Homo sapiens: one gene and its partner. The protein of the gene in region 1 interacts with the protein of each later gene in a biochemical or structural test. Each region holds a gene or a part of one and is shown on either strand. Other genes may lie near its edges.

Evidence for each region.
Region 2: the proteins of RAB11FIP2 (region 1) and MYO5B form a complex in vitro, tested with the Homo sapiens proteins (2 studies listed by BioGRID).

Annotation. Positions count from the first base shown.
Region 1 is NC_000010.11:118,039,874-118,056,915, reverse strand, and holds the start of RAB11FIP2 (rab11 family-interacting protein 2), read left to right. Parts: upstream 1-9,974; 5' UTR 9,975-10,752; coding exon 10,753-11,105; intron 11,106-16,350; coding exon 16,351-16,793; intron 16,794-17,042. UniProt on the Homo sapiens protein: A Rab11 effector binding preferentially phosphatidylinositol 3,4,5-trisphosphate (PtdInsP3) and phosphatidic acid (PA) and acting in the regulation of the transport of vesicles from the endosomal recycling compartment (ERC) to the plasma membrane.
Region 2 is NC_000018.10:49,818,059-49,832,972, reverse strand, and holds the end of MYO5B (unconventional myosin-Vb), read left to right. Parts: intron 1-6,349; coding exon 6,350-6,502; 3' UTR 6,503-10,184; downstream 10,185-14,914. UniProt on the Homo sapiens protein: May be involved in vesicular trafficking via its association with the CART complex. The CART complex is necessary for efficient transferrin receptor recycling but not for EGFR degradation.

The DNA of each region.
Region 1 (17,042 bases):
ACATATAGTATGTTAATATTACATATTATGTGTATAAAATTGTAGGTTACTATATATATCACAAAACCAGAGAAAAGTTCCAAGACTCAAATATTTATGCCTGAAGTCCCAGCTTCAAATCCCTTGTTACAGCTAGTAAACTAAGAGTGCTCTTTAGCGATCATGCTTTTTGGAGAAGCAGCTCATTCAAGTTATCTAATAAATTTTATAGTGGATGCACTGAATGAATAGAAAATATATTTTAAATATAATTGAAAAAAATACATTAAATAAGCATAGTAAGCCAGCTTTGGGGTTAAGTCTTTACTACTTATCACCATGAATCATAATGACACTAAACTATAATATACAAAATATTACAATAGAACAGGCCATCAATCCAAACCTTGGAGTTCTCCTAAGATGTCCTGCTTTATAAATGTAAACACTCATTTTACCTAATCCATAAAAAAATAAGCAACAAACTGTGTGAGGTGCTGCTAATTGGCCAAATAAGATATGGACTGTGACAATGTGTAGCCGTAGAGGGGTGACGACAAAAATCTGATTGATGTATGTTCGAGAGAAAAAGAGCAGAAAGAGAAAGTAAATATGAACAAGTTTTTCATTCAATAAGTTTTGCTCTAAAAAGAAACAGAAAGGTAGCTGGAGGAGGTACAGGGGTGTATGTGCAAGTTAAGTTTTTTTTTTAATATGAGAAATACTAGATAATATTTGTATGTTGATGACATTGATCCAGTAGAGAAGAAAACAACTGAGGATACAGGAGGGAGAAAGGATAATGGCAGATGCAAAATCCTTGAGAAGACAAGAAGAGATGAAGTCCATTACCTGAGTCCTCAGATGGGAACAAAGATGGGTGATCTATTGTAACAGGAGAGGAGAGGTAGGGCAAGTAGTGGGGCACCTTCATGAACTATATTTTTATTAGTTCATCTCAAATTTGCATTAATTTTACAAGCTGCTACACCACAAAATCAATGTCTACTGCAGTGAGAATCAACCAAGATCCTGTATCTCTTCCCTGTATGTTGTTGGTAGGTCACCCAACCAAAATGCTCTTAATTTTTAAGACCAAGTTCACTAAGGACATCACTTCAGCTTTATGTTAATGCATTTGGAATATTTAGTCCTAATGTACCACCACAAGCTAATCATATAGGGGACCCAAGACCATCTCATCACGTCATAGAAGGCTCCTCAAACCCTTGGGCTCTGGCCATGACCTCACTTTGCTTACAATGTATGTAGCAGGTACAGTATTTCAGTCCATATACTCAGATGATAGGCAAGAACTGTAACTCTATTTCCCTGTTACTCAACATAATCTCTATTTTGATTCCCCTAGTTCTACTCTTGTCAAAATGTATCCAGAAAATGTCATATCTGCATAAATTCAGGTTTTTAAACTCAGGTAAAATTTCCATCTCCCTATCCTTCTCCCTGAGACCAAAACTAAGTTCTTAACGCTGGACTGAAATTGAGGCCCCAGGGAGAAGCCCAGGAAGGTCTATGGCTGTCAGCATTGACTCCTATTAGCAAGTCATATGAAGTAATAGGTGTAGGTCCTATCATGGCCAGTCCCTGGTTCTTTATCCATGTATATTCTGAATTTTCCCAATCCCGACCTGGAGGACCCTAGTTTATCAGCCCTCTCTCAGTCACTTTCTCACCTTTCAGGGGGAAATGAAATTTTTAGAGGTTCTCAGGTACCTCTCGGATGGAAGGAGGCTCAGGGAGTTGCCTGTAACAAGACCGTCTTGGCCTTGAGTCCCCCTGCTCTGCTATTCTACTGCTACTGTTGCTGCTCCAAGCCAATGTGGTGCATGGGATTAGGGAGCTCTAGGAGTTTGCTTACTTTCAAGGTCCTTCTTGAGAAACAAGATGCAAGTGACAATTACTTTTAGATGCCAAAATTTATCTGGATGGTCTATCATCCATTTGCCCAGCTCCCATGCTCAACAAGTGGGGAGGCGAGTGGAAAGGTCTTGGAGACATTCCACCTGTCCAACTATCTTGATCTTCTTTACAAGCTCCCTATTCTTCACTTCGTCCAGTGAAATCCTTGTATAGTGTAGGTCTTTCATTAATTGCATTCTTCCCCAATTTTTTCTTTACTGCATAAATTTTGGCTTTTGTTATATCTTCCCCTATTGTCTACTTTGAAATGGAAAAGCGGAGAAGTGACTCTGTTGCATGCCTTGGCCTCACTTCTCTGGAGCAGTTAGTCTAGCTCTCCTAGCTACTGCCTGAAACTAGGCGGAAGGTCATAAGGAGGCCAGCAATTACTAGGAATAAGAACAACATAAGTTATTATCAAGATATTATCAACCTTGCAACCACATGAGCTTGTTAAGGCATGTTTTTCCAAGAAGGCACTAGGTTTGCCATTGCACAATACATTTAAATTTAGTCTGTTTTATTAATACAGTATATTGTCCTGTAATAATCAATTTGACTCATCACATAATTTATCTGCATATATTTATCTTCTTAACTATCAAATTTTTATTTATCCTTCACATGTTCCTTAGCTTATAAAGTTGAGTTGGATTTAACATAATTTGAATGATGGTAAATTAGAATTCTCTTGCTTTTAAATGTTCCACTGTTATTTTAAGCAACCTTTGATGCTAGAAGAAAAAAGTGTGCATGCTAATAGGTATACATTTAATAGATACAAGACTAAAACCATAATAAAATTTCATATTTGTAAAATTCTTTACAGTTTACAGAACGATTCTACGTGCATTATTGTGTTTTATTCTCTAGCAAGTGTCTACTGTAGGTTGAGTTAGTGTGTAAGTCCTGATCTCCCGAATGAAAACTCAACATTTTTCCACAAGGAACAGACTATTAGCATTTTGACATTTGGTTATGAAGGCAGAAGAGTTCAGTGATATCCTAGGTCACCCTTTGTCCGTGCATAAAGTTTATTACTATATTTCAATTTCTCTGCAGTTTATGGAGGCCAAACACCACAGTATATGTTGCTGCTCATCGAGTATGTCATGCGGCACAAAATAGATCAATTATCTTTTGCTTGTCTCTGAGCTTTCACTGAAGCGGTGTTAGGACCTGGCATCATGTCAAGGATGCTCTGATAATGCTTAAAGCCAACTGAAGTACAAGAGTTGTCCAAAGGATATGAAGGATCTGTTTCTCAAGTGTCCTGATGTGAACAATGCCTAAAGAGAGTTCTCCCACAACCTCATCTCCTTTGTAACAGGATAGGAAAAAAAGTGGTAATGTGTGTATTGGCTGTTGCTTTATCTCTTTCAAATTAAATGAGATTGAGATGTTAATGAATGCAGTGTAAGGCATGTCATCAGCAAATGTCAGCTATTATTATTATTAAAATTGAGATAACAGAGTTAACATTAGAGTAGCAAATGGAAGTTAGAAAATATTGGTTAGCACCAAGGTGATAATATTGGGAGGCAGGGCCCCTGGCAGAGCCCTCTTGACTGGGATTAGCACTTTTATAAAAGAGACCCCAGAGAGCTGGCTCATTCCTTCTACCCTTGAGGACACAGTGCAAAGACTGTCATCTAGGAGGAAGAGGGCCCTCACTAGACAACCATTCTGCTGGTACTTTGGTCTTTGACTTCCCATCTCCAGACTTGTGAGAAATACATTTCTGTTGGAAGGAAGGAAGGAAGGAAGGAAGGAAAAGGAGGAGAAGGAGAAGGAGAAGAAGGAGGAGAAGGAGAAGAAGGGGAAGGGGAAGGGGAAGGGAAGGGAGGGGAAAGGGGAAAAGGGGAGGGGAAAGGAGGAGAGGGAGAGGAAAGGGAAGGAGAGTATGGATACACTGGTTAGCAGAATGTTTGTTGTAAGATTCACAGGACGTTATATTTTTGTTTTTAAATTTATCATAATTCTCTCTGAAGTGAAAATCTAGAATATTAAAATACTACCTGGTACATGATCTACTACATAAATTTCCAATTTTGCTACGTATAGGTATATAATGTAAGGAGTTATTTTTCTTCAACTCAAGGATCTGATTCATTTTTATAAAGTTGTTAAAATGATACCTAGAAAGTCATTATTGAATTTTAAAAGAAGGTTTGAAATACTATTAAGGGCTTATTCTATGTTACTTTTGTTTAGAAAAAGAGTATCCAATAACATTGAGTTTGGCTTGAAACAAAAATAACTCAGGGTCTCCATTGCTGGGTTACAGGGGCACCTGCCACAGCTCAGGATCCTTAATTATTTGGTGAGGAACAGTCCAGACCAATTGCTGTGTAGCCTTTGCCTTCAGATAGGAGGAAAGTAAGTACTTGGAAAAGAAGGGACACATCATCAAGCCAACAGCAACAAGCATCTTTTGAGCACTTCCTATGTGTCAGGCCCTCTCTGTACTTTTACCTGATTCCCCTATTTAATCTTCCCAACAACCCACTTTGCAGATGAGGAAACCTAAATTTGGAAGGTTTACACAATTTGCCCAAGGTCACACTGTTATTAGTGCCCGGGGACAAAAATCTACCACAGGGTGAATACTCAACAGTGTTCAGTGTCTCCATCCAAGGAACTTTGCAGCAAATCTTGTTTCAGAAAGCGTTACAAGCCCTTGATTCCTGAGGTGCCTAATTCAGAAGACTTCACTTTTACAAAGCTAGCTTGCTCAATTTTTTTTTCCAATGTCCAAGTGTAGACAGAAAGGAAAATGAAGACCATCAAAATTATAAAGGTGATCTGGGCAAAACCTACCTTAGAAATTCATGCAACACACTTCTTACTCGGAATAGGGTTCTTTGAAAAACTTCCTTAATTTTCCTGTGTTAAAAGAACATAGTTATGGGCACAAATTGCACAATCCATATACCTTCTCATCTTGCATAAACTTGATAAAAAAAACAGTAAAATGCATTTTCTCATTGATTTGAATCTATTGGGAAGCCATTCTGGATAACCCAAGATCCAAGTTTGGAGAGAGAAGAAATGTAAAATTCACTGTTTTCTGGAAGAGGACTTTAAGTTGCTCAAGGTCATATACAACATTAGTTTTTTAAGCCAGAAGATTTCTGTCCACTATACTACATAATTCCTGAAATGAGGTATCTCCTTTAGGTATACATTGCTAAGCAACATCTTATGCTCAGTTTTGGCTGTACAGATCAGCCATGATCATTCCAATAACCAGAAAATGATTATAATACATACTGGCAACAACCTATAGGTGCACTGAAGGTGACCTAACCCAGAATGTGTAAAAGATAAGCATACAGTTCTAAGCCCAAAGTGCTTTTATGATCAGATATCCAGATGGACTAAAACATTGTTCAGGTCAGTTGAAAGTTGCTTTAGGAGAAATGTTTAAAATCTGGCCCTGGAACAAGAAGAGTTGGATCTATCCTTCAAAATGTCATTTTCCCCCAGGCTTTATATCAAACACACAAAATATAACAAATAAAACAAAACACAACAAAAGCCCTTTACTTTTTTTAACATAGATCAAATAAGTAGAAAGGCAGAGAACAGTCGATCTCACATGGGGGAAAAAACCACCACCACAAAATGTTTTTGCCATCCGCCCACCGGTTTAATGCTCTCTAAATGAATGTATTTCCAGAAATATTATCCCAGAAATTTTATGGATTCCAGGCCGTCCTAGAAATATTATAATTTGAATACCCCGTTCTTTGTTTAAAAAATATCCCTGTCTTGGATTTTAATTGAACATAAAAAATTTAGCAGATGTTTACAAAGTACAAATATGATAAGTTTATATAACTCTGCTAATCATTGCCTTCAGGAATAATCAAAACTCTCCAGCCCTTATTAACCCGCACCTAAATCTGTAGAAGCAGCAATGTTCTGGAAGATTTCAGAAAGACTCATGATGATGAGACAATTGAAATTTGAAGACAAATACCAAAGTAGTCACAAAATCTTCTTCCAATAGCAATAATCTCTGCTTCTCAGTAAATATAACAAAAGGAGTTTGAGAATTCTGGATTTGGAAGGAGTCCCTGAGGCACAGACAGAATATGGCTTGCCAGGTCTATAACTCCTTAGTTTGTAGAACCAGGATTAGAATTCAAGTCTAATACTCAGGCCCATGGGTGTTCCATACTCTCATTCACAAACTCCCAATAATTTCATCATCAATTACCAAAACAAATCCCTGCATATGTGCATAGGAGATATATAGATGTTTATGCAGCATTGTTTATGATAATTGAAAAAGTGGAAATAACTTAAATGTCCTTTGGAAGGAGAAAAGATCAAATGGGGCTTATTCATCTCACCCAATGCCATATACCAGTTAAAGTTAATCAATTCGTGTTCTATGCATTAATATGCATTTTGTTGTAGGAATAAAAATTATACAATGGAATACTATGATACTATGAAAAGGAAATTGAAAGATGTTCCCATACAAAACCTTCTTATATGCAAATGTGTATTTTGCTCCGTAAATTCTTACCAATCTCAGCATATTTTCACAGTTCAAAAAAGCTACAAATAATACAGATAGAAGTTATAAACTTATTACTACAATTAAAAAGTTCAAGGCTGCTCAAAACCACTTGCACATACATGCAATTTCTTCCAAATCTTGAGCTGTTGGTGTCAATTGCCTCATGCAGAGCCTATTAATAAAACTTATATTCACTTGCTTTCTGTGATCATTAATTACCTTCATTTGGGAGACAGAGCTGTCAGGAAATCTTAAAAAATAATTTTTTTCTCCTGAATTAGAGAATTCTTTATTAATATGTTACATAAAAAGGAAATCTGCTTTAGTATATTGACCAAATTCAGTTAGATAATTATAATGCAATTTGCTTCTTTGCGTTGTGGATATACTATGTAGAATCTTTAAATGTTAGAGGATCCTTTGGTGGCTGCTATAAAAGTCTCATTTTACAAGACAGCCCAAAGAAGAAAAATGACTTCCCTAAAGAGATGTAGCTAGTAATAGGCAGCCCTGGGATTAAGACCCAGGCTGCTGACTAGAGCTCTTTACACTACATACCATGTTACTTCTTGGGCATCACAAAATGTATCCACACACTGCCCAATCCCAGAAGAGAAATTGATCAGTCCAGCGATGAAAACAAAACAAAACAATCCCCAAAAATCCCCAAATGCCAGTTCATTGCCATAATAATTTCAAGTCAATTTGCCAAATACTCTTTCACTTTTCAACCGATTACAAGGAGATTGATCTATCTATCTATCTATCTATCTATCTATCTATCTATCTATCTATCATCTATCTATGTATCTCCAATATAACTCTGGGGCTTTGTCATATGTACATATATATGAATTTTACATACCTTTCAGTTGTGTATATATTTGAGGTGTGGTGTGTGTCTGAAGTCTAAAGACTATAATGATACCTTGGGGAAGTTTCTTGTTGTCCTTATGTTTCTGAATCTCCATCTGGAAAATAATTAATATCCATTACATAATGTACATGGGAGCATTAACACGCTTGACCCAGTGGGCTATTTAAACATGAGAGCATTATAATTGTTCTGCAACAGATTTGCAAGATGTGATTTTAGAGATGCCTTTGTCCAAAGGGAAAATCTCCCCCAATGTCTGGAATAGGTCTCCTTATGGGACTTATTCTTTATGGGACTGAAAGGGGCAACATGTAGTAAATATTTTCATCTGTGAAATCCTCTACTCATGGGGAATAAATATTGACTATTTTAACTTTCTGGTCAAAGCATTCTTATTCATTGCTGTAGGCATTGTTAACAGTTTAAAATTAGAATGTTCAGCATTTTCCTTCTAAAATATATTATTTTCCCAAGACTTTGATTTTGGAATTGTACCATACATTTCCGGATGTATCATTAGTCATAGGATAATTTTTTAAAAAGTGACTCTCTTCAATTCTGGTATGTTGTCCTTACACACGCAATCCTTTCCTTTTTAAATTGTTGTCCATGTATATCTTAGAATTAGTCAAAAGAATTTTTAAAACTGTAAAACAATAAACATTTTGGGAGAAGCACTTTGATCCCAGATCTTATGTAATTGTCATTATTTTTCACTATAAGCCAACCATATCTTTGACTCCACTGTCATATTTTTATTCTCTTAATATAATCAAAAAAGGAAAACATTCTATAGGAAGTCATTTCCTTATTATAATGCAATCCCAGATTCTATTTAGCTCATTTGGTTTGTTTGTTTATTTGCTTTCCCCGGGGGCAAAAATATGTTATTTTCTTATTCTGGCTTAAAAAATTTTAAGTCATAATTTCTGATTTCACCAGTAAAACTAAACAATTTTGGCTCTAGCCAGCTGTTGGGAAAACTCAAAAGAAATTTAGGTGCTACAGAAAGAGAGGTTAGTAATTCCAATTGTTCAGCTCTTGCCTTTAGAGTATTCTCTGAGTTGTGTTGGAGTATGTTATTGAGTTGCTGTGAACTACTGCTGCCAACTTCTACCCTAGAGATGGCTATATTTCAGAGATGAGTGAAATTATATTTGTAAACAAGTTTATAATCATTAATAAAGCTTACCAATTTAAGCTCTTCAGAAATACACATCCACTATTATAATTTTCTATTGTTTAATTACAACCTTTAATAGAGACATGAAGACTTTTAAAATGTATAAGAACTCTAAACTTAATTAAATTTGATTTCATGATGTTTATTTGGTTTTTGTAAGTTTCAGGTGTCAAATTATTTCTCCTTAGAGATCCTGGTGAAATTCCACCATTGACTGTTCCAACGTACTGTTTAAAAATCCCTAAGAATATTTTTCTTTAAAGTTGACAACTGTGCACTCTGGGATCCAGATGCTATATTCGCAGTACGATGATTTTGTTCTGTTTTCCACACATGGCCTTTTCATACACTGTCTCCCAGGGATGAAAAATTCTGCCTTGAATGAGAAGTTTTAAACCTTGCTTGAAAATAATAAACACGATACTTTACATGTTTATGGCCATTTAAGTTAAAAAAACGTGCATTTACATGTATCATATTGTTTTACTCTCAAAATTAGTCTTGTAAAGGGAAAAAAGGCATTAAGTAATTCAGTAAATTGTCTGCTGCATGCTAGCCACTATGAAGGGACTGCATGATAGACAAGGCAGTCCCAAAACTTAGAATTTCCTTGGGAAGGTAAGACACGAACAGAATTAACAGCAATGGGGTGGTACATAAGCGTCTCTTCCAATTGAGAAATAGAGGGGCAAAAGGAGATTTATGTGCCGCATTGTGCTAGGAAAGGCACATGTATTATCCCCTGAAACTCGAAACCCGTGTTTGGGGCATGGTCTCCACATGATTTGCACAGTCCACCACAGTGTGAGTCCCCACGGGGGTCCTTTTGACGTCGAGCCCATAGAGTCGTGATGGAGTCTTAGACATGAGGTAGAACTGGCTTTTTTACTCGTGAAAACACTGAGGCTCATGGAGGTGAAATGACTCGGCCAAGGTCACACACACTGATAGCGGCAGAGGCGCGGCCGGAACCAGGTCTTCTGATGCCAGCCCAGTGCCTCCCTACATCTCTACTCCCTGTGGAAACTATTTGCTTCCCTATCGCCCTTCGTCTGGGTGGGGGATGTCATTTTCAGTCAATTTACGGACTTTTCAAAAAGAGAAGGGTGGATAGGAGATTGGAGAAAAGTTTCCTTTCGGTCAGTGAAGAGGCCTGATTCGTTCCAACACCATTTATGGACCTGCTCCTGCCAGGCACTGGGCATCCAGGACACAGCGAACACAGATCCCCTGCCCTCAAAGACGCCCTAGTTAGGGGCGTCTCCGGGTCTTTGATGACCTCCTCTCACGAGCGGTCCCCAGCCCTCCCCAGGGCTCACCTGCCGGCCTCTGCAGGTACCCACGTCCCTAGGACCCGCCACTGGGCCAGGCCCAAGCAGCATCAAGCCCCGGGTCCCCGCCATTGCGCCCGCGTCGCGCGCCTCCAGTCGCCACGGCAACCAGGGAGGTGCTGACCCCTGACCTCGAGGCCCCGCCCCTTCACGTTCCCGAGACCAACATGGAGAAGGCCAACCCGGAAGTGCCGCCGCAGCCGCCCGCCCGGTGTTAGGAGCCGCCGGCCGGGCCAGGCCGAACCAAGCGCCCGCAGCCCTGCAGCCCGCTGCCCGCCCCACGTCCCGCCGGCGCCGGGGCGGCCGCGTTCCCCGCCCTCCCCCACTCCACCCCTGGCTACCCGCTCCCGCCCGAGAGGAGGAGCTGAGGCGAGGGGGAGGAGGAGGAGGGAGAGGTTTGCGAGAGGGAGCGAGGCCGCGTTAGCCGCCGGCGGTTCGTATTACCGGGGTCGGGAGGAGGAGCCGGGCCGAGCCTGCGGACGAACGCCGGGCGGGCGGGAGGCGCGGAGGCAGCGGAGGCTGCTCGGCCGCAAGGAGGCAGGCGGGAGGCCAGGGGTGCAGAATTGGGGCGGGGGCTCCCTTCACCCCCGCAGCCCTCCGCCCGGGTCCGTGTGGCCAGGCCTCACGTGCCCCGCAGGCCTGGGGAAGGTGGAGACAGGGGCGGGGGTCCGCGCAGAGGCCTGCACGGCGCGGCCAGGTGATGGTGGGCCTCTGTGTTTCTCCAGACGAAAGGGGACCCCCGGAGCGGCCGTGCCCCTGGGCTGCCCCCGCGAGGCGTTTTGACATCAGCCATAGGGAAGTCGGGGAGCCCTGAGCCTGCCTGTTTCCGTTAAGTGTCCTTAGGATGCAGTGATTAAGGAATTAGGCTCTCCCTCCGGGAGGGGCACTGCCTGTGCTAGGGAACTCGGGGGCAGAGAAACAGGACAGGATGATGCTGTCCGAGCAAGCCCAAAAGTGGTTTCCAACCCACGTGCAGGTCACAGTGCTCCAAGCCAAAGATCTGAAGCCAAAAGGCAAAAGTGGTACCAATGACACATACACTATAATTCAGCTGGGCAAGGAAAAGTACTCCACCTCTGTAGCTGAGAAAACCCTTGAGCCAGTTTGGAAGGAGGAGGCCTCTTTCGAGCTACCTGGATTGCTAATTCAGGGAAGTCCAGAGAAATACATTCTTTTCCTTATAGTTATGCACAGGTCCCTGGTGGGTCTGGATAAATTTTTAGGGCAGGTGGCAATCAATCTCAATGACATCTTTGAGGACAAACAAAGAAGGAAAACAGAGTAAGTTATGTAATTTATTTTGAATTTGGGGGAGTTTATATCTTATTTATGGTTTTTCTGTTCTTGGAAATTATCCGTATACTTCGGGCGTTGGTTTTTGGATTGAAATATGATCCAGTTTTAAGCACCATATTTGCATGAATCTGAAGTAAAAGTAGCACTCGTGATGAAATATTTTTTAAATGGAATCATTAATGATCCCTTATTCTTTCTGTTAAACATCTGTCAAATAATTGAATATTTTGTGGTGGATTTTAAGTAAGTTAACATTGTTTCAGTATGAGGACTGGATCACAGTATTGACCAACTAGAACTTCATATAAATTGTTATGGATTTTAAACCTTACAATTATCAATGAAATGGAAGATGAGAAATTAAATCTGGCAATGTAATGTTGATGTGTCGCACTTTGTAGCTGTCAAAAGATAAATCACCAGATTTAGAACTCAGTATTTCGTTTCAGCGTTATAAACACAGCTTTTATTTTAGCTCAGCCATTTTTCAGGGTCAGTGTGCCTTGATGGGAGTCTATACCTGTTAGAAAAAAAAAAAGTTTTAAAAGTATGTACAGACATCCTCAACTTCGAATGCACTTACATTTTCCTTTGAATTTGCAATTACATCAGAGTTATTGTATTCAGAATTGATTTTCCAAAGCTATTGTGTTTAGACCATATTAAATGCTGTAGGATGGAGAGAATGATAAATTTTTGTGATGAAATGATTTGATAACATCTTCAGTGGTCTTTTCAGTATGACTTTTGAGCTTGAGTTAGATACATTTTAATTTAAAAAATCATAATATAAATTAACACTAGGATATTGTGTCTTAAATTGAAAAAAAATATGTTTTTAGAGTTAAGTATACTCACCCCTTCCATAAACTTAAAAGGACATTATATTAATGAAATTAGTGAGAGAAAAATACTGGTTGAACTTCTAAGAGGACTTTCCATTTCCAAAATAGTGTTGGTGTTTTGTTCAGTTATAATTGAATTTATTTACTCTTTAAAAAACTTTCTTACAATGATATTTTTCTTGAAGTTTATGTTAATTCTTTACATTTTAAAACGACTCTCTCTTGTTCTTTTCTGTACATTTCTACTCTCAGGCTTCTCTTGATTGGAGTTTTTTTGTTTCATTTTAAATCAGGTCTTAACCTAAGATTTAATATATGTGGAGTAAAAGTGTAGAGAGATCAGAAATACTAGGAATGCAGGAGGAAAAATGGTACCATTTAATTGAGATGAAAATATTTTAGAAGGAGAGAAAAAGTTAAATGTAAAGTTTAATATATATCAGTGATTTGAATAATAAAATTATTTGATACCTAAAGAGTGGCATTCAGTTTCCTCCGAGGGATTCTTTATCAAATTGAAAGTGAAAAATGGATAATTACCAAATAATCTGTTTCAAATTGCCAATTTTGGGTGACACTTAGTAAATATTTAACGTGTTTTGAATGTAAACTATTAAGTATATTGCACCTTCAAATTCCTCACTTCATTTATAGTACTTTAATATTCATGGATCATGTATTTCAGGCCTTCTCTGAAACATAAATTTTCCTAGTGAAAGTAGGACCAAATGTGAACCCAAGGAGTCTGAGGATGAAATAACCTTTTACAATTTCTTCTTGTTTTACTCCTAGTCCTGGGCAACATCACAGTTACAATACATTTGGTGTGAGCAATACTCTAATATTATGGTCTCTCCTTATAGAAATTCTCTACTGGCTATTATATAAAATTGATTAGAACTTTAGGGGTAAAATGCTTTTAAATGTTATCAACAGGGTTTGTGATGTTATTGCATTCAAAGTGATTTTCATATATTGCTAAACCCTTAACATTTTATTTGTGGATAAATGGGGACCATGTATTTGATGAGATATCTTTATTGGTAATATTTCTAGTTTTTTAATATATTTAATAGCTTCCTTTTCTAGCACAGCTGTACCTGTGGCCCAGTAAGAGACAGACTTGAGCCGCCGGTATATTTCAAGGAAGATATTTAATATTCTGCACATTGCTAAACTTTTTCAGCATATTCCCAAGTGCTTTTTAGAAAACTGTTTCGAGTGATGAGGACTACCAGCTAACTTAGATGTCCTATGAAACTGCTGGGTGTGACACTTTTTACATTTTGACACTGAAGACATATATTTACAGCTTGTCTTCCAGTTGTGTCATGATAGATAAAGAAGTATGACAACTAAAATTATTACTTTACTTATTTTCTTACCTTGAAAATATATGTCTTTTTTCTCTCTTAAGGAATGGGGAAAAAGGGTCTGAGCCAGAACCCTTTGAGTGGGCCTGGGAAGAGAACTTCTGTATCTCCTCCTTTAGAGGATGTCTGGGTTGGTTCTGGCATGAGATTTAAAGAAATAATACAATGTTTAGTAATAGAATGTTAAAATCATTGATGCTGTTGTGTAATATCCATTGATTTTTTACAATAGAAGTAGGTGATGTTGACTTTTTTTTTTAATGCTCATGAAAAGTAATAACAACCAGAGTCTGTAGAGTTAGATGTGACTCAGACATATGCAGATTTTAGGACGTGTGTGTGTCTCAGCGGTGCACCTGTGTCCTGGCCTCTGGCACCCTTACTGCCAATTTTGTCCCATTTCTGACCACACAGCACCAATTGCTTGGGAATAGTTCCCATATGTGTGCTGGTTTTTGAACATGGACCTGTGCCCACTAAAAATTGAACAGAGGCCATGTACAGTTTAAATCCAGTACTCCAGAGGTGAAAAAAAGTCAGCTAATCCAGTAAGCTCCAAATGCTGTGTCTTCGTTTTATCTTTCTGAAGACTGGAAAAACAAATGCTATCTCTGAAATGATTCTTGAAGATCTCATTAAGACTTCCCTATTATGTCATTTTCAAAACAAAGCAACTAAAGTTATTTGTCATTGCTACATTTTCAATGAGTATATTTGTAAAAGTTCTTTGCAGTTTTTTTTGGGGGGTGGGGAATGGACATTATAGTGTATTTACAGTTTGTAGTCAAATACTGATTTGCTTTATTCAGGTTTACATAGGTCTTTACAGTTTCCTACTAAAAAAACAAGACAATGTAAACACATACACACACACACACAGTTGTAGCTTACTTGTAAGAATATAGTTCTAGAAATAAAAATTGAATAAACATTTAATGCAAGGCAGACTGCCTTCCAGGAGCTTATACTCTAGCAGTAGAAAATTTGCATTGTCTTTCTCTTCAGCTCTCATGTCTCCTTATTAAATACAGTGTCCTGCAGTATGTGCCAGCCATGTGGTTAACCTTATTAACATATGTGGTTCATCAAATAAGAAAGAGCTTCTATTTTCCTGCAGATGTTATTCATCAACTTTAGATTTTTTTCTTTATTGACTTTAATCTGACATTGGGAAGTTACATATCATTCCTTGTGCCTCAATTTCCTCATCTATGAAATAAAGATGTTAAAGTAGATGATTTATTGGTCTTATCTCTAAAAGTCTGTGAATTTCCACTACCCCCACCCCCTTCCATTTTGGGGGTAATTAATTTTTTTTTACTCATATTTGCTTTGATTTGTTACATACGTGCTCGTTTTTGTTTGCAAATTTTTGGTACATTTTTTGCAAAGTATATTCACCTACATTCTATAAAGCCTGAGGTACTACAGAGTATTTCTGAGCTACTGTTCGTCAGATGTGTTTCTCTCCCTATTGAAAATAGCTCTGTTTTCCAAAACTTTGAGTTAACTGGGTATATAATCTGCTTCATTTCCAGGCTTTTTGAGTGCTCAATTGTATGTTATTTAAGGTTGTCTATTTCACAGAAATCGCTGTCATTTCTTATTTCTAGCCCCTGTTTCTTCAGATTTTACCATTTGCCTTATATAAGGGATTTTCTCAGTTTAAGGTCTCAGGCTAATAGTATTTTAAAATATTGATATTCTAAGAAATGGCTAGTTTTGATGCAACTATATCTGAATTGATTGAATAGCTCCAATTTAGTTAATCAAGAAAATATTTTTCTTCCATGTTACGTGCAAAGATGTAGCTGGTATTTATATCATGTGCCAGTATTTCAACTTGATATACAGTAAATGTAATCTTCTCTTGGCATATCCAGTTGGTAACAATGAGAGAAAGAACTAATGTAAAATTAGATCAGAGTTCCTTTGTAGCTAAGAAAATTTGTTACACTCGATTAGAGCTATATTTAAATAATAACCTGTGTGCAGGAATGGATATTATGCCTCATTGCTAAGTTATGTGAAAACATTGTAGAAACTCTTTCAGGCTTGATTTTGTAGTTTTTTTTGGCTGTTTTCCCATAGAATGACCACTTGTGACATGGCCAACTGGAGAATTTCTCATGGATAAAAATACTATAAAACCAAAATATTGCTTCTTGTATATCATTTAAATACAGATAGTGCCATACATTGAAGGGACTAAAACGTAAGATTTGGCTTCATTTTCAAAATAATTTTTATTTGGTATTGTCACAGTAGCAATAGTAAAATGAAGCAAATAGATTCAAACAAGAAGCATTTTAGGTTTTTTTTTTTCCTTTTGAAAACTTCACAAGATTTATTTTTTGTCACTTCTTGCATTTTACTTATTTTTTGCATATTTTATTCAGGAGTAGGCTTTGATTCATTTTATGTCAATCTAAATGACATCATATGCTGTTTTAATGATTAGCAAGCTATATGCAATGATCTCCAATGTTAACAAAATTCTTTTGCTACTTTTACGTAAGTAATATTTTGGGATGGGGCCAGGTATTTATTATTGTATTAAAATGTCATGAGATTCATTTTATAATGCTCAAAAATAATTTGTATTGGTGAATTCTTTCAAAATCTCTGCCTCAATGTCTTTTAATGTTAAAAAAAAATGTCCTTAGGCCGTGAGCAACACTTAATCCCATATGGAAAACTTCTAGCATTGATAAGAATTTTTGATGATGAGTGATTTTCAAATTACAAAAGAAAAGATTATCTGAAAACATTTTCAAACTTGCCAAAGACCTATTCATTCCTTCAGTATATGTTACATCACAGAGACAATGATCAGTTTTTTAAACTAAATAATAAGTAAAGCCCGAAATACTGTGGCTGACAGATTCTTATTCAGAGCTTAGGTTGCCTTGATGTATAGTTACTTTACCTAAAAGGCTATTTGTATGTAACAGAACTCAGTATCCTCTCTCTATTATGTGTTACAGCCAATTTTTTTTTCTTCTCTTTAAGGTGGTTTAGATTAGAATCCAAACAAGGAAAACGAATCAAAAACAGGGGTGAGATAAAGGTCAATATTCAGTTTATGAGGAACAATATGACCGCAAGTATGTTTGACTTATCAATGAAGGACAAAACCAGATCTCCTTTTGCAAAGTTAAAAGATAAGATGAAGGGTAGAAAAAATGATGGAACATTTTCTGATACGTCTTCTGCAATCATTCCAAGTACTCACATGCCCGATGCCAATAGTGAATTTTCAAGTGGTGAAATACAGATGAAATCCAAACCAAAAAAGCCTTTTCTCTTGGGTCCTCAGCGACTCTCGTCAGCGCATTCAATGTCTGATTTATCTGGGTCCCATATGTCTTCTGAGAAACTGAAGGCTGGCACCATAGGTCAAACACATCTTCTCGGACACCAGTTAGATTCCTTTGGAACAGTTCCAGAAAGTGGTAAGTGTCACATTCTTGTGTACTCATTGGTCTGAACTACCCTTTTAGTTTTTAAAGTTTAATTTCTAAATTTAGTAAATCAAAATAGCAGTTGCTTTGTAGTATTTTCCAAATTTTGTCATTCATCAAATATTGAGTACCTACTATACCTCAAATTGGTAAGTTCCTTGAAGGCAGAGCTTGTCTGCATTTGTATTTATATTATTAGATGATAATAAAATGAGTGCCAGTTTCCTTTTATGGCTTGGC
Region 2 (14,914 bases), on another chromosome or scaffold:
CATATGCCTTGTGATAGGTTCATGATAATAAACGCAGCAAACCTCAGAGTGGGCTGTGTGTGAGCTGTCAACAATCCCAGAGAATCATTCTGCCAGGCCACACCAGAGCCATCATTGAGTACCTTGAATTAGTGAGGCTAGTTGCTTATTCCTCCCTAAATACCTTTCTCTCCTTTAAACTTCTCTCCCATTATTTCAAACCACTTTTTCAAATGATTAAAATTACTTTAAAATTTTGGCCCATCTTTCAAGATGCCAAACACACGGGTACTGGAAATTTAAGTCATGCTTTCTATTCATAATTCAGGTAATGGATGAAAACGTGGGCAATTCTAGGTTCCCCTGCCACTATAGAGCCATCTTACAGTGCCATGCTCCAGCTGACTTCATTCTGTAAACCTATTTCCCAGCGATTTTCAAATGCTGCTATGTATTTACTGACTATGGCCTGTTTCGAGGTTTAAGAAAAATAAATTGTGTTTTCACAAAATCAGGATATATTGATTTTCCTTTTTGGCAATACTCCCACAGTTAACCCTATTGACTTTTGTAAAAGTACAGCTTCTACCAGCAGTTCATGGTTCAGAGGTCAATGGTTAATGCATGGGCAGGAGGAACAAAGGAGCATATTATAAAACTGATAACAGCAAATACAGCACTTACTATGTGCCAGTGATGGTACTCTGTGTTCTTTACACCTGTTAACTCTTCAAATCCTCACAACCTTATCAGAAGGGTACTCTTCTCCATCCCATGGTTTTGGGGTATGTGTGTTCCATTTTAACCATTTTTAAGTGTATAGTTCCGTGGCATTAAGTATATTCACAATATTACATAACCATCACCACTATTTCCAAAATTCTTTCATCATCCTAAACAGAAACACTACCCATTTGGGCAAATAATATTCTCCCTTCCCTTCAACCCTGGGTAGGCTTCTATATGTAAATTCTAGATATCACATATAAGTTGGCTCATACGATATTCTTTCGGGTCTGGCTTATTTCACTTAGGTTCTCAAAGGTCATCCATGTTGTAGCATGCATAAAAACTTCATTTTTTTAGTGACTAATATTCCCTTTATATATCCCATTCTGTCTATTCATTGGTTGATGGAAACTGCACTGTTTCTACCTTTTGGCTATTGGGAATCATGCCGCTATGAACATTGTTGCACAAGGAGCTGAGATCAATTTTTCAGTTCTTTGGGGCATATATTTAGAGGCAGAATTACTGGGTCATATGGTAACTCTATATTTAACTTTTTGAGGAATCTGAAACTTTTCCACAGCAGCTATACCATTTTACATTCCCACCAGCAATGCATGAGAGTTCCAGTTTCCCCACATCCTCACCAACACTTGTGATTTTCCAGCTTTTTAAAATTATAGCCATCTTAATGGGTGTGAAGTGGCATCTCATTGTGGTTTGGATTTGTATCTCTCTGATGACTAGCATCTTTTCGTGTGCCTATTGGCCATGTATATATCTTCTCTGGAGAAATATCTATTCCAGTATTTAATTCATTTTTAAATTAGATTATTGTCTTTTTGATATTGAGTTGTAGGAGTTATTTGTATAATCTGGATATTAAATCCTTATCAGATATGATTTGCAAGTATTTTCTCCCATTCTGTGGGTTGTCTTTTCACTTTCTTGATAGTGTCCTTTGATGCAGGAGTTTTAAATTTTGAGGATGTCCAATCTATGTATATTTTTTTGTTTCCTATGCTCTTGATGTCATTTTTAAGAACCATAAATACTTTCCCCTATGTTTTCTAAGAGCTTTGCAGATTTAGCTCCCTTTAAGTTTTTGATCCATTCAGAGTTAATTTTTGTATATGGTATAAGGTGAATGTCCCACTTCATTCTTCTGTATGTGGATATCCAGTTGTCTCAGCACCATTTGTCAAAGACACTGCCCTTTCCCTCATTGAATGGACTTGGCACCCTTGTCAAAAATCAATTGACCAAAAATATGAGGGTTTTTTTTTTTTCTGGGCCCTTATATTCTATTGGTCTGTATGTCTGTCCGTATACCAGTACCATACTGTTTTGATTCCCATAGCTTTGTAAAAAGTTTTCAAATGGGAAGTGTGAGTCCTCCAATTTTGTTTTCCTTTTTTTTTTTTTTTTTTTTTTTGAGACAGAGTCTCACTCTATCACCCATGGAGCGCAGTAGTGCAATCTTGGCTCACTGCAACCTCCGCCTCCCAGGTTCAAGCAATTCTCCTGCCTCAGGGAATATAGGCATGCACCACCATGCCTGGCTAATTTTTGCGTTTTTAGTAGGGAAGGGGCTTCACCATGTTTGCCAGGTTGGTCTCAAACTCCCAACCTCAGGTGATCTGCCCACCTCAGCTTCCCAAAGTGCTGGGATTGCAGGCATGAGCCATTGCACCTGGCCAATTTTGTTATTTTTCAGGATTGCTTTGGCTAGTCAAGATCCCTTGAAGTTTGATATGAATTTTAGGATTTTTTTAGATTTCTGCAAAAAACGTCATTGGGATTTTGATAGGGATTGCACTGAATCTGTAGATTGCTTATGTAGTATTGTCATCTTAAGTCTTCTAGTACATGAACATGGGGTGTCTTTCCATTTGTTTAGGTCTTGACTTTTTCAGAAGTGTTGCACCTTCTTGGCTAGATTTATTCCTAAGTATTTTATTCTTTTTGATGTTATTGTAAATGGAATTGTTTTTCTTTCTGATTATTCATTACTAGTGAATAGAAATACAACTGATTTTTATGTGTTTTTTTTTATTATGTACTTCGCTGAATTCATTAGCTCTAGCAATATTTGTGTGTGTGTGTGTGTGTGTGTGTGGATTCTTTCAGTTTTTCTACATGTAAGATATGTTGTCTGCAAGAGGATCATTTTAAATTGGCTGCCTCTTATCTCTTTTCTTGTATAATTGCCCTGGCTAGAACTATACTGAATAGAAGTGGTAAGAACAGGCATCCTTATCTTATTCTTGATCTTAGAGGAAAAACTTTCTGAGTGTGATATTTGTGATGTTAAATGTGGGGTTTTTACATATGGTCTTCATCATGGAGGGATTTATCTTTTTATCATTAAAAAAGTTGGATTTTGGCAAATGCTTTTCTCCATCGATTGAGATGATGTGGGTTTTTTCCTCTTCATTCTGTTAATGTGGTATATTACATTGATTGATTTTTATGTTGAACTAACCTTGCTTTCTGAAGGTAAATCTTGCTTGGTCATGGTGTATAATCCTTTTAACCTTTTACTGAATTCAGTTTGCTAGTATTTTCTTGAGGGCTTTTACATCTGTATTTATAAGGGATGAATATAGTTTTGTTTTCTTACAGGGTCTTTATCTGGCTTTGATATTAGGGTTATACTGGCCTCATAGAATGAGTTAAAGTGTGCCTTCCTCTTTGATTTTTAGGAAGAGTTTGAGAACTGGTGTTAATTCTTCTTTAAATGTTTGATAGTCTTCACCAGTGAAGCCCATCTTGGGCTTTCCTTTGTTGGGAAATATTTAATTACTAATTCAATATGCTTACTTGTTATAGGTCTATTCAAATTTTCTATTTCTTCTTAAATCAGTTTTGGTAGTTTGTGTGTTCCTGGGATTTTGTCCATTTCATCTAGGTTATCCAATTTGTTGGTGTTAAATTTTTCATAGTATTCTCTTATAATCCTTTTTATTTCTGTAAAATTGGCAGTAATGTCCTCACTTTCATTTCTGATTTGCTAATTTCTCATTTTAGTCTTCCCACACACCTGTAATCCCAGCTACTTGGGGGGCTGAGGCAGGAGAATCACTTGAACCTGGGAGGCGGAGATTGTGAGCAGAGATCACACCACTGCACTCCAGCCTGGGTGACAGAGCAAGACCCCATCTTAAAAAAAAAAAAAAAATTGTCAATTTTTTGAACCAACTTTGATTTCATTTGTTTTGGGTATTGATCTGTTCTCTATTTTTTCCATCTAATTTATGTTATTTCATTTCTTCTAGGTTTAGGTTTAGTTTGCTCTTTTTCTGATTCCTTAAGGTATACAGTTAGGTTATTGATTTGAGATTTTTTTTTTTAATGTAGACATTTACAGCTACAAACTTTTTAGCACTATGTTTATCCCATCCCATAAGCTTTGGTTTATTATATTTTTATTGCCTAATTCCCCCTGTGATTTCTTTAGCCCATTGGCTATTTGAGAACTTATTATTTTCCATATATTTGTGGATTTTGCAGCTTTCATTTATTGATTTATAGTTTCATTCCATCCTAATCAGAAAAAATATTTCATATGGCTTTAATATTTTTAAATTTATTCAGACTTGTTTGAATATTGGAGACTGTTCCATATGCATTGAGAAGAATGTGTATGCTGCTAAGTGGGGTGTTCCATATGTGTTTGTTAGGACTAATTGGTTTATAGTGTTGTTCATGGCCTCTATTTTCTTATTGATCTTCTATCTGGTTCTATCCATGATTAAAAATGGGGTATTGAAATGTCCAACCATTACTGTAGAACTATCCTCCCTTAAAGTCTGTCAATTCTCCCTTCAAATATTTTGGGGTTCTGTTGCTAGATGCAGATGTTTATTATATCTTCTTGATGAGTTGAACCTTTTATTAAAATATAATGTCCTTCTTTGTCTCTGGAAATGACTTAATTTCTCCTTCATTCTTGAAGGGTAGTTTTGCCAGATTTAGAATTCTTAGCAGACAAGATTTTTTCCTTTCAGGATTTGAGCTGTGTCATCCCACTGCCTCCTAGCCTCCATGGTTTCTGATGAAAAACAGCTGTTAATCTTATTTGAGGATACCTTATACAGTCAGCCCTCCATATCCACAGGTTCCATATCTGCAGATTCAGCCAACCACAGATTCAAAATTCAGTATTCACAGGATGCAGAACCTGTAGTTATGGAGGGACAACTTTTTCTATCTATAGGTTCTACAGGGCCGACAGCAGTACTTGCATATCCATGGATCTGGGTATCTGTGGGAATTCCTGGAACCAATCCCCCATGGATACTGAGGGATGACTGTATGTGACAAGTCACTTCTTTCTCACTGCCTTCAAGACTCCCTCTTTGTCTTAGGGTTTTGACAATTTAGTATAATGTGTTTCACTGTGAATCTCTTTGCCTTTATCCTGCTTGGAGTTCATTGAACTTTTTGGATGATTACATACATGTCTTTCATCAGATTTGGGAAGTTTCTGGCATTATTTCTTCAAATATTTTGTTGCCCCCTTCTTGCTCTTTTCCTTCTGGTACTCCTGTAATGTGTATGTTGGTATACTTGATGGTGTCCAATAGGTCTGTTAGGCTCTGTTCATTTTTACCTCATTATTTTTATTTTCTTCTCAGACTGGATCATTTCAATTGCTTTATCTTCAAATTCACTGATTTTCTTCTGCCTGCTCAAGTCTGCGGTTAAACTTCTCTAGTGAATTTTTCATTTCAGTTTTTGTACTTTTCCTAAAATTTCTGGCTTCAAATAGGAAGCAGGGAGGGGCTCTGTGCCTTTAAATTTTCCAGTTGATGCCACTAGTGGAAGCCATTGCATCCCAAGGAATGTCTAAACCAAGACAGGCATCTGCTGGGACCCACCAGATCAAAGGGCACAACCCCAAATTTTTGGAGGACAAGGTCCCACTGCCTACCCTGGCCAGCTAGCTACTCCAGGAATGTGAGCTGCTATCCCCATAGCTTCAGGGGAGCTGAAGAGAGGGGGATAGTAGCTGGGTCACACACACAGTTCCCTTAGCAAAGATCAGCAGCCTCTCCCTTTACCAATCAGTCTCCCGATTGTTATAAATGTCCAATCAAGTTCCAGAGTTATGAGATAGTTGACAATCACTGTTTCTACTTCAAGGTAGCTTCAGTGGAGGGACCAATCCCTAGGGCTTCCTACTCTGCCATTTTATGTGATGTACTCTTCTCCCATTCTACAGGTAAAGAAACTGAGGCATAAAAAATTCAGGAATTTGCCCAGGGTGGTGCCAGGATTAGAGCTCAGCTGTCTACCTAAAAAAAAAAACCCATGCCCTTGGCCACTTCACTATAGTGCCTCTCCATATGGTTTGCACCTGAGATGTATTTTATATTCTCCCTTAGACAATTTTTTAAAGAATGCTAGAATTGGGAGAGTGCTTACAGCCCTCTGATCTCCAAGAAGCCTAAGTCAGGGCTTCTCTCCCCACTAAATACCTCAAGGGTGAGGAGATCACATTCTCCTAGTCCTGAAGTTCTACCTAATTGTCGTAGAAATCTTTCCATGATATATGCCAACTCACTTTTGTGAATTCACTTAAACTGGCTATTTTTAGGGGTACTCAAACTTTACATGGTCTTATTCTTCCCCATAGGCACAACTACAAGAGCGGAATGACCCTCAGCAACTGCTATTAGATGCCAAGCACATGTTTCCTGTTTTGTTTCCATTTAATCCATCTTCTCTAACCATGGACTCAATCCACATCCCAGCGTGTCTCAATCTGGAATTCCTCAATGAAGTCTGAAGATGCATGTTTCCAGCATTAGTTTGATTCCCAATGTGAGCAAGAAGGAAGTATATACAGTAAAGTAAATTCAAGGATCTGTTAAATCTGGTAAAAGTAGATCAAATCAGAGATTGACAGCCTGTGGAGGGTGCTGAACTATACAGAATTAGACACAACTATGTCATTATTTTTTGTACCTACTGCTCAGAATAAAAACACTTGAAATATGGAAGATTTTAAGTTTGATTTCAGTCCAACACATATACATAATTTATAGACACCAAGCAGTCCCCATAGACATATAAAAGGTGTCAATTCTATAAAACGAAGCTGCCTAGTTTTGATCTTTGCATAGAACTAGAGAATGTCCAAATTAAAATACCAAATATATATAAGTCACATAAATTGCCTTCAAAGGGCTTTAACAAATAATGGTACTAATAACCATGATAATGGCATATACTGACATTTCCCAAAGTTTGCAAACCATAGGTGTGGTTGAGTTTGTGGTGAGATGTTTTAAGAACAAAAATATGGGGATGAGACTTCTGAGAAATATTCCCAAAATATTTTTTAATGGCTGATTATACACAGACAGTGGTGTAACTGACCTCCAGACCAGACATTTTGAGTACTGGTTTCTGAAGCAAAATTAGAAGTGCCAGTCCTCAGTGTGCTCAAACGCTTTTGTGTTATCTTGATTTAATGGAAGAGATTATTAAAATGCTGCTATCCCAAACTCCAAGTGAGAAAGATGGAAAAATATTTTGTTTCTGATGCTAGTCCATACACTTTCCAAGTCCCACAAAACTTTCACAAAAATGTATATAAGCTAAATATTAGAAACGGATAACAAACTTGTTTTATTTATAGATGTAAAAACCAAACAAGTCAATATGAAAGCTTTTAATCTCTTAATACCATTAAGCTTCCAGTAAGAGCATCACATAATGCTCTACTGTTCCAGAAACCAAATAGTAAAACAAACTAAAGTTCGCACATCAGATCATCTGAAAAACCTTCAAAAATAATCAGTTCAGGGATATTATACAAAAGTTTGGGTTTTTTTTTTTTAAGAGAATAAAATGGCTTAGGTCAACTTTCCCTTTTCAGGTTATTTTCAACGTTTTTCAAATTTAGCACACAAAAAATTGTAAATATCTCTCCCACAAAATAAGGATTTTAAAAAAGTAATTCAGTAATATAACAGGCTTAGATGTTTGCTGCTCTTAGAATTTTTTTTAACTTGTTTTTGGTTTCTTCAAAAGCAAGCATTCAATTGGAAACCCATATTCTTTCCACACTTTTTTTTACTGTCTTTTCTGTATTTCTTGATAGCAGTATGCTGTTCCCATAAGAAAAAAATGGTATTTGCAAATCATGGAAGAACAGCCTCTGTATTACATTGAGAAAATAAGATTTATCCATGAATTGGAAGTAGAACAGCCTGCCTTCACCCTCTTTTACTCAACCACCCAACTTAAAAGGCTCTTGGAAACACAGCACACTCCACGCTACCTTCTGCACTGTGCCCTTAGAGCACAGCTTCCTCAGTTGTTCTCTGCATCTCCTGGGGCTTAGGCCAGTCTTAGCCTGGGTTAAGGCTGCTGACATTGTGTTCCAATCAGTTGTCATGGGCATTATCCCCTCTACATCCACATTAAACATGCCGGCTTCTCTTGGGCATCGGCAGAGCTGTGCCTTTTTCTTTCAGTTACAGTTACATAATCACTGACGTCCATGACACTTACCCATGGATCCATGTGCTGACTTCATTTAGAAGGCCAATCTAAAACAACTGGGTTTGTGGCTACCTCTTTAAAGTTGTTTGTGAAGGATAATTTGTTTTTTAATGCACTTTAGTTTGAAAGTGAGTCTCTTATGTAAGGACCATCCTTAAAAGACCAAAAATGCCTTGTTAGAGTGTTAAGGAGTTTTGACATGCAGTGGTTCCACAAACACAGTGGCTTACTATCCTTATACACTGTCTTATACCATCATTCTCTCCATCTCTCTTGGTCACTACTCTCTGCTGTCACTGGTTAATCACTAGGTGCCAAGAGCTTACTGAATAAAAGCTTGGCAATTAGAATAAATGGGGAGGGAAGGACCTTATGAATAGTCCATTTAGCCTAAGAAATGGCAGATTTAGTTCTTCTCTTCCAAAAGATAAAGGTATATCCTGGAATTGTACTTAAAACTTACAGATGACTAACAAATATATACTTTATATGTAGTTAATATTTAGATCTGTCTTATTTAATACTTGGAGGCTAGAAGAAGCATCTTTAGGGGAACTATATAATCTTTTGTTAGCATTTTCTCTGCATTTTAAAAAATCATTTCAATTCAAACATTTATCAGTGTCATGAAATCAGTAATGACTCTTTAACAATTCAGGTTTGAACTCTGCATTAGATGTCTCTTTAATTTTTTAATATTTAAAATTTAGTTGACATTTTTTTCACCAGGTGCCTTTAGCGGTTACTAAGATAACTGACATCAGTTGTTTCTCTGAAATAAGTGTTGCTGTGGGAATAATTTTAATGTTCAAGGTGATATCATGGGGGAGTTTTGTCTTTTAAAACATTAGAAGCATTTTAAATATTAAGAATCAAATATTTATAGATCAAAACTTGTGTTTTAAGTATTATACGGGACCTGTTTACTTATAGTAAATGTGAATGTACACATGAGTTGTTGCTGAAGCTGACAAGCATATTACATACATGCATTTTCCCTGTGCCCTCATAGTTGCAGTTAGAGTTCCAGTACCTGTAGGCTCACCTGGGAGGCAGATTAGACCCAAAGGTAGATGTTTTTCCCCTTTCCATGAAGCATGTCAGTGGGAGTTGCTTCCTTTGATTTCCCTAGTACTAAATTTTAAGGCTTTTGTAAAAACAAAACAAAACTAGGAGCTTGGAACAGTTAAAAATCAACACTGCTACCATCAATTCATCAAATATTTACTTAGAGCTTTCATACATTAAGATTCCAGTAACCAATAAATTAGAATTCATTTCTTCTGCATAAAGTAAATTTTCATACACTTGACCTACTAAGACAGCAAGGGTGTCCTAAATTGAGGCATTTGTATAATGCCTGCATAACTAAATGGTCACTAAAATGGGACAGCATGGGGCAAGACCTTGTAGTTCTTCACAGAATATTTGTGGTCAGTTTCTCCAATTAATTTGCTGCATGAGCCAAATAACCATAATTCACTTTTTATACCCACTGGTGCCATAATTAGAGAATTAGAGGGTGTAGACAGAGGTTAATGCCAATGAGAAACACAGGACAGGGTTTTTTTTATTATAAAGGTCATTAGATACAAAAGATTGTTTTTCAAAAAATTTCTAATTCTAACAAAGGGGATCAATCAGAAATGAAACTAAGCTACTTTCTAAAGTGACACTGTATCAGAATAATCCAGATTTGAATATAACATTTTGCCACCAACTGACATTTAGATGAAGGACTGCCTCTCTGAAAGAGTTCAGATCATATTCAGGGGTGAATCCAACACCATGGAAGAAAGACTACTGATGAAAATATTTTCCCACTTTGCACAAATCTGTAAACTACACCTTTGTTTATAGAAAAATGCTTGTAATAGTCACTGTAATATTTAGCTGTGGATAAAAATTTGTGGAAATAAATACTTTTGAATAAAGAGGTGTGCCAAATCTAAATGAAATTTAAAACTCTGCAGCTACAGGTTGACAAAGTTTCTTTGTAATGCTCTCTTGAGAAGCTTCATTATGGGGCCTATATTCTAATACGTGTCAAGATCATTTAAACCAGAGGTCAGCATCTTACAGTCCAAAAGTTGGGGGCAGGGAGAAACTCTCAGATAACAAGGCTTATTGAGCAATTACTTTAAAGCTATGGAATTAAAGGCAGTTTTGGTGTAGGCAAAGACAAGTAGATCAACGAAACAGAATAGGGAGTGCAAGGATAGGCCCAATCCTATGTATAACATAGCATACGGTAGAGATGGCATGAAAAATCAGTGGGGAAATAGTCATAAGATCTGTATGGAGGAATTTGTAAAATATAAGTGAAAAACAATGACAACATTAAAATGGAGAAATAATTAGGTACAAGAATTCGAAGACTCCATACCACTAAAAGTTTGTCAGTTGTCCCCAAGTTGATCTATAGATTAAAAATCAAAATTTCAACTGTTTCTATGTGAAAACTGACAAGCTCATTATAAGATTTATATGGAAGAGCAAAGGCCCATGAATAAGGAAGACCCTCCTTGAGAAAGTGGGAAGCTTTCCTTAGCAGGCATTGAGACTTACAAAATTTCAGTAATTAAGATGTGTGAGGATGACAGACATGGAAATTTTTTTTTTTTTTTTGAAACAGAGTTTCGCTTTTGTTGCCCAGGCTGGAGTGCAATGGCACAATCTCAGCTCACCGCAACCTCCGCCTCCCAGGTTCAAGCAATTCTCCTGCCTCAGCCTCCCTAGTAGCTGGGATTATAGGTATGTGCCACCATGCCCAGCTAATTTTGTATTTTTAGTAGAGACAAGGTTTCTCCATGTCTGTCAGGCTGGTCTCAAACTCCCGACCTCAGGTAATCCACCCGCCTCGGCCTCCCAAAGTGCTGGGATTATAGGCGTGAGCCACCGCGCCCGGCCCTGGATGTGGAAAAATTGACCAGTGGAACAGAATAGCCCAGAAACTGAGCATCTATATGGAAATACTGATACATTTTTTCTTAACTGGGAGTACACATCAAAATCACCTGGAAATCTTTAAAAAAATTTACACCCAAATTTATGGAATAAGACACCTCCAGAGATGGTGCCCTTCCACACCCATTGTTAACCTGACCCACCTAAAAATATACAAGAAGACATCCCCAGGGATGGTGCCCTTAAGCACCCATCATTAGAGACCACTATTGAAATATTTCATGATCCAGAAAAATGGTCACAGTATAATTAGTCCTCAACGTCACTGATAAGTTCTAGGAAACCACGAGTATAAACAAAATGACGTAATGACACCAATTTTAACATAAGCTAGTTGATATAAACAGTTCCTTCGGCATATTTATGGTCATACAAACATCACCAAATTTTTTTTTTTTTGAGATGGAGTCTTGCTCTGTTGCTCAGGCTGGAGGGCAATGGCAAGATCTCAGCTCACTGCAACCTCTGCCTCCTGGGTTTAAGTGATTCTTCCTCCTCAGCCTCCCGAGTAACTGGGATTACAGGCGTCCGCCACCATGCCTGGCTAATTTTTTTGTATTTTTATAGAGATGGGGTTTCACTATGCTGTCCCGGCTGGTCTCAAACTCCTAGCCCCCAGTGATCTGCCTGCCTCGGCCTCCCAAAGTGCTGGGATTAGAGGTATGAGCCACCATGCCCGGCCAAAACATCAACAAACTTCTAAATAAAGACCAAAACACTTCTAGAATTAAACACTGAAATGAAAGCTATATATACATTTGAGAAAGATTAATAAAAACAAATGAGAAAGTTGCCCACTTATTCCATTTAAGAGTCACTGAGGGCCCACCTCTCCTGGCAGCTCAGGGTGCCAGGGAGGCACCAGGCCTGGACAGGAAACCATCCTGTCACTGGGTGTGCTCACAAACCCACACTCAGACTGGGATCACTTAGACACATCCATTCACCTCATGTACACAGCTTTAGGACATGGGAGGAAATGAGAATCCAAAGAAAACAGTCATGGGGATCTCACCAGTGGAACGTATCCATGTCTGTATGAATGAGGCTGCAGCCTCAATTCTTGCCACCTCAGAAGAAAGAATTTGAGGGCCGTACAGCAGAAGGAGAGACCAAGGCAAGTTTTAGAATAGGAGTGGAAAGGCAGGAAAGTACACTTGGAAGAGGGCCAAGTGGGTGACTTGAAAGAGTCAAGAGCGTGGCTTAACCTCTTGACTTGGGGTTTTATATGTTGGCCTACTTCTGCGGTCTTGTGTTACTTCTCTCAACTCCTGAGATCTTGTCAGGAAGTGGCTGATCACCAGTTTCATGTGTTTTCTATCGGGAGACTGCCTTTCTCTGATGCTGGCTGCGACCAATGACTACTTTAGAAAGACAGTTAACAACTGCCTTGACCATCACTGGATGGTCACAAGATGCTCCTGGTGTGTGTGTGGAGGGGGGAGCTCTCTCCTGCCCTGCTCATGCCTGACTAGGTACCCACTGTAACAGGGAGAACCTGCAAACTCCACACACACAGTGGCCCTGGCCAGGAAGCAATTCTTTTTTTCTCACCAACATTATGTCAAAATGACAATGAATGAAACAATGTTATGTAGGGACCTGCTGTATACTATGCAGTGAAAAGTTGACTTTTGAAACCACCTTCCAATCTAAAGATGGATTCACTTTTTGAGTGGCTGACCAAAGAATACCCTCACTTGAGGAAAGCCTTCAGCTCATTCTCAAAGAGGTTTAGTCCTAGCTTCAAAGCCTCAACAGGAAAACCACATTTGAAAAGAAGCAAATTTCATACAAGATACACTTAATAACAGTTCAGAAAGAGAAAAGCAGACTGACTTCCAGGAACTGATTTGAAACTCAGAGCTAGGCCTGGGTCATGCTAGAAGCTGGCCTGGTCCTCTGTGCTGGGCCGTGTTGTTCTTTTGCTATGAACAACCTTATAAAACACCAATATCAGATGTGGCCACTCTGACTACACTAAAGTGATATGAAACAAGACTGTAATTTTGCCCAGGCACAAAAACAAGATCACTGTGTAAACCATGTAACACCAAATATGCCCTGTCCCAGGTAATATGAGGGACTGTAGCTGCTTTCCCAGGTGCAGCTTGAGCCTAGCTCTAATCAGCCCTCCTTCAGGATAAGATGATACTGTGACGGTTAATATTAGTTGTCAACTTGATTGAAGGATGCCTAGATAGCTGGTAAAGTATTGTTTCTGAGTAGGTCTGTGAGGTTGTTGCCAGAGGAAATTAACATTTGAGTCGGTGGCCTGGGAGAGGAAGAGCCACCCTCAGTGTGGGTGGGCACCATGCAATTGGCTGCCAGCGCAGCTAGAACAAAGTGGGTGGAAGAAGGTGGGATAAGCTGGCTTGCTGAGTCTTCTGGCTTTCATCTTTCTCCTGTGCTGGATGCTTCCTTCCATTCCTCCTGCCCTTGGACATCAGACTCCAGGTTCTTCAGCCTTTGGACCCTTGGACTTACACCAATGGCTTGCCAGGAGCTCTCAGGCGCCCTTTGGCCACAGACTGAAGACTACACTGTTGGCTTCCCTACTTTTGAGGCTTTTGGACCCAGACTGAGCCATTCCTGGCTGAGCCTGCTGATGGCCTATTGTGCGACTTCACCTTGTGATCCTGTGAGTCAATTCTCCTTAATAAACTCCCTCCCTCCCTCACCTCCCTCCCTTCCTTTCTTTCTTTTGCTTTTTTTTTTTTTTTTTTTTGAGACGGGGTCACAGAGTCTCGCTCTGTCACCAGGCTAGAGTGCAGTGGCACCATCTTGGCTCACTGCAACCTCCGCCTCCTGGGTTCAAGTGATTCTCCTGCCTCAGCCTCCCAAGTAGCTGGGACTACAGATGCACGCCACCACGCCCAGCTAATTTTTGTATTTTTAGAAGAGACGGGGTTTCACCATGTTGGCCAGGCTGGTCTCGATCTCTTGACCTCGTGATCCACCCGCCTCGGCCTCACAAAGTGCTGGGATTACAGGTGTGAGCCACCAGGCCTGGACTTAAACTCCCTTCCATATATACATATGTTCTATTAGTTCTGTCCCTCTGGAGAACCCTGAATAGTACTGATACCCAAAGACTTGTCCCTACTTCCTGACAGTACCCAATCCAGAGTGAACCCGTACTTCCTTGGATCCTCCCCAAATCACCTAACCAAACCCCAAATCCTACCACCCTTTTACTGAGATGTGCTGCAGTTCCCAAAGGCACACCCATGATGTGCAATCTCCCTTCTTCCAAAGAACATTAAACCCAACTTGTTCAACTATAGGTGTGTTTCTGGAGGTTTCTGGCTGGAAGGCAACAACAGCATTGTCTCCTTCTACCAACATTAGTATTTTGCAGAGTAAACTTAGATCCAAGGAAGATTTGCCTAAGGTTATGCTACTAAATGAAAGTTGAGCCAAAGATATAGAAGCTGCAAATAACTTTCAGACAAGTAGAGAAAAAAGAAAAACAAATATCTATCTTAAGTTTGAGACAGTGCCTTAGGGTTACTGGGAACACATCAAGACTTAGGGTAAACTTAACATGAGGGAGTTTGGCGTATTGGTGTCTTTATTACTTCCTGTCTACATTCCCTTAGAATAGGTAGCTAGGCAGACTTGGGCAGGGCAGGAGAAAACCTCCCCCACCCCGCCCAGGAATGTCAAGCGACTATCAGGTGATGGTCAGGCAAGTTGTTAAACTATCTAAAATAATCAT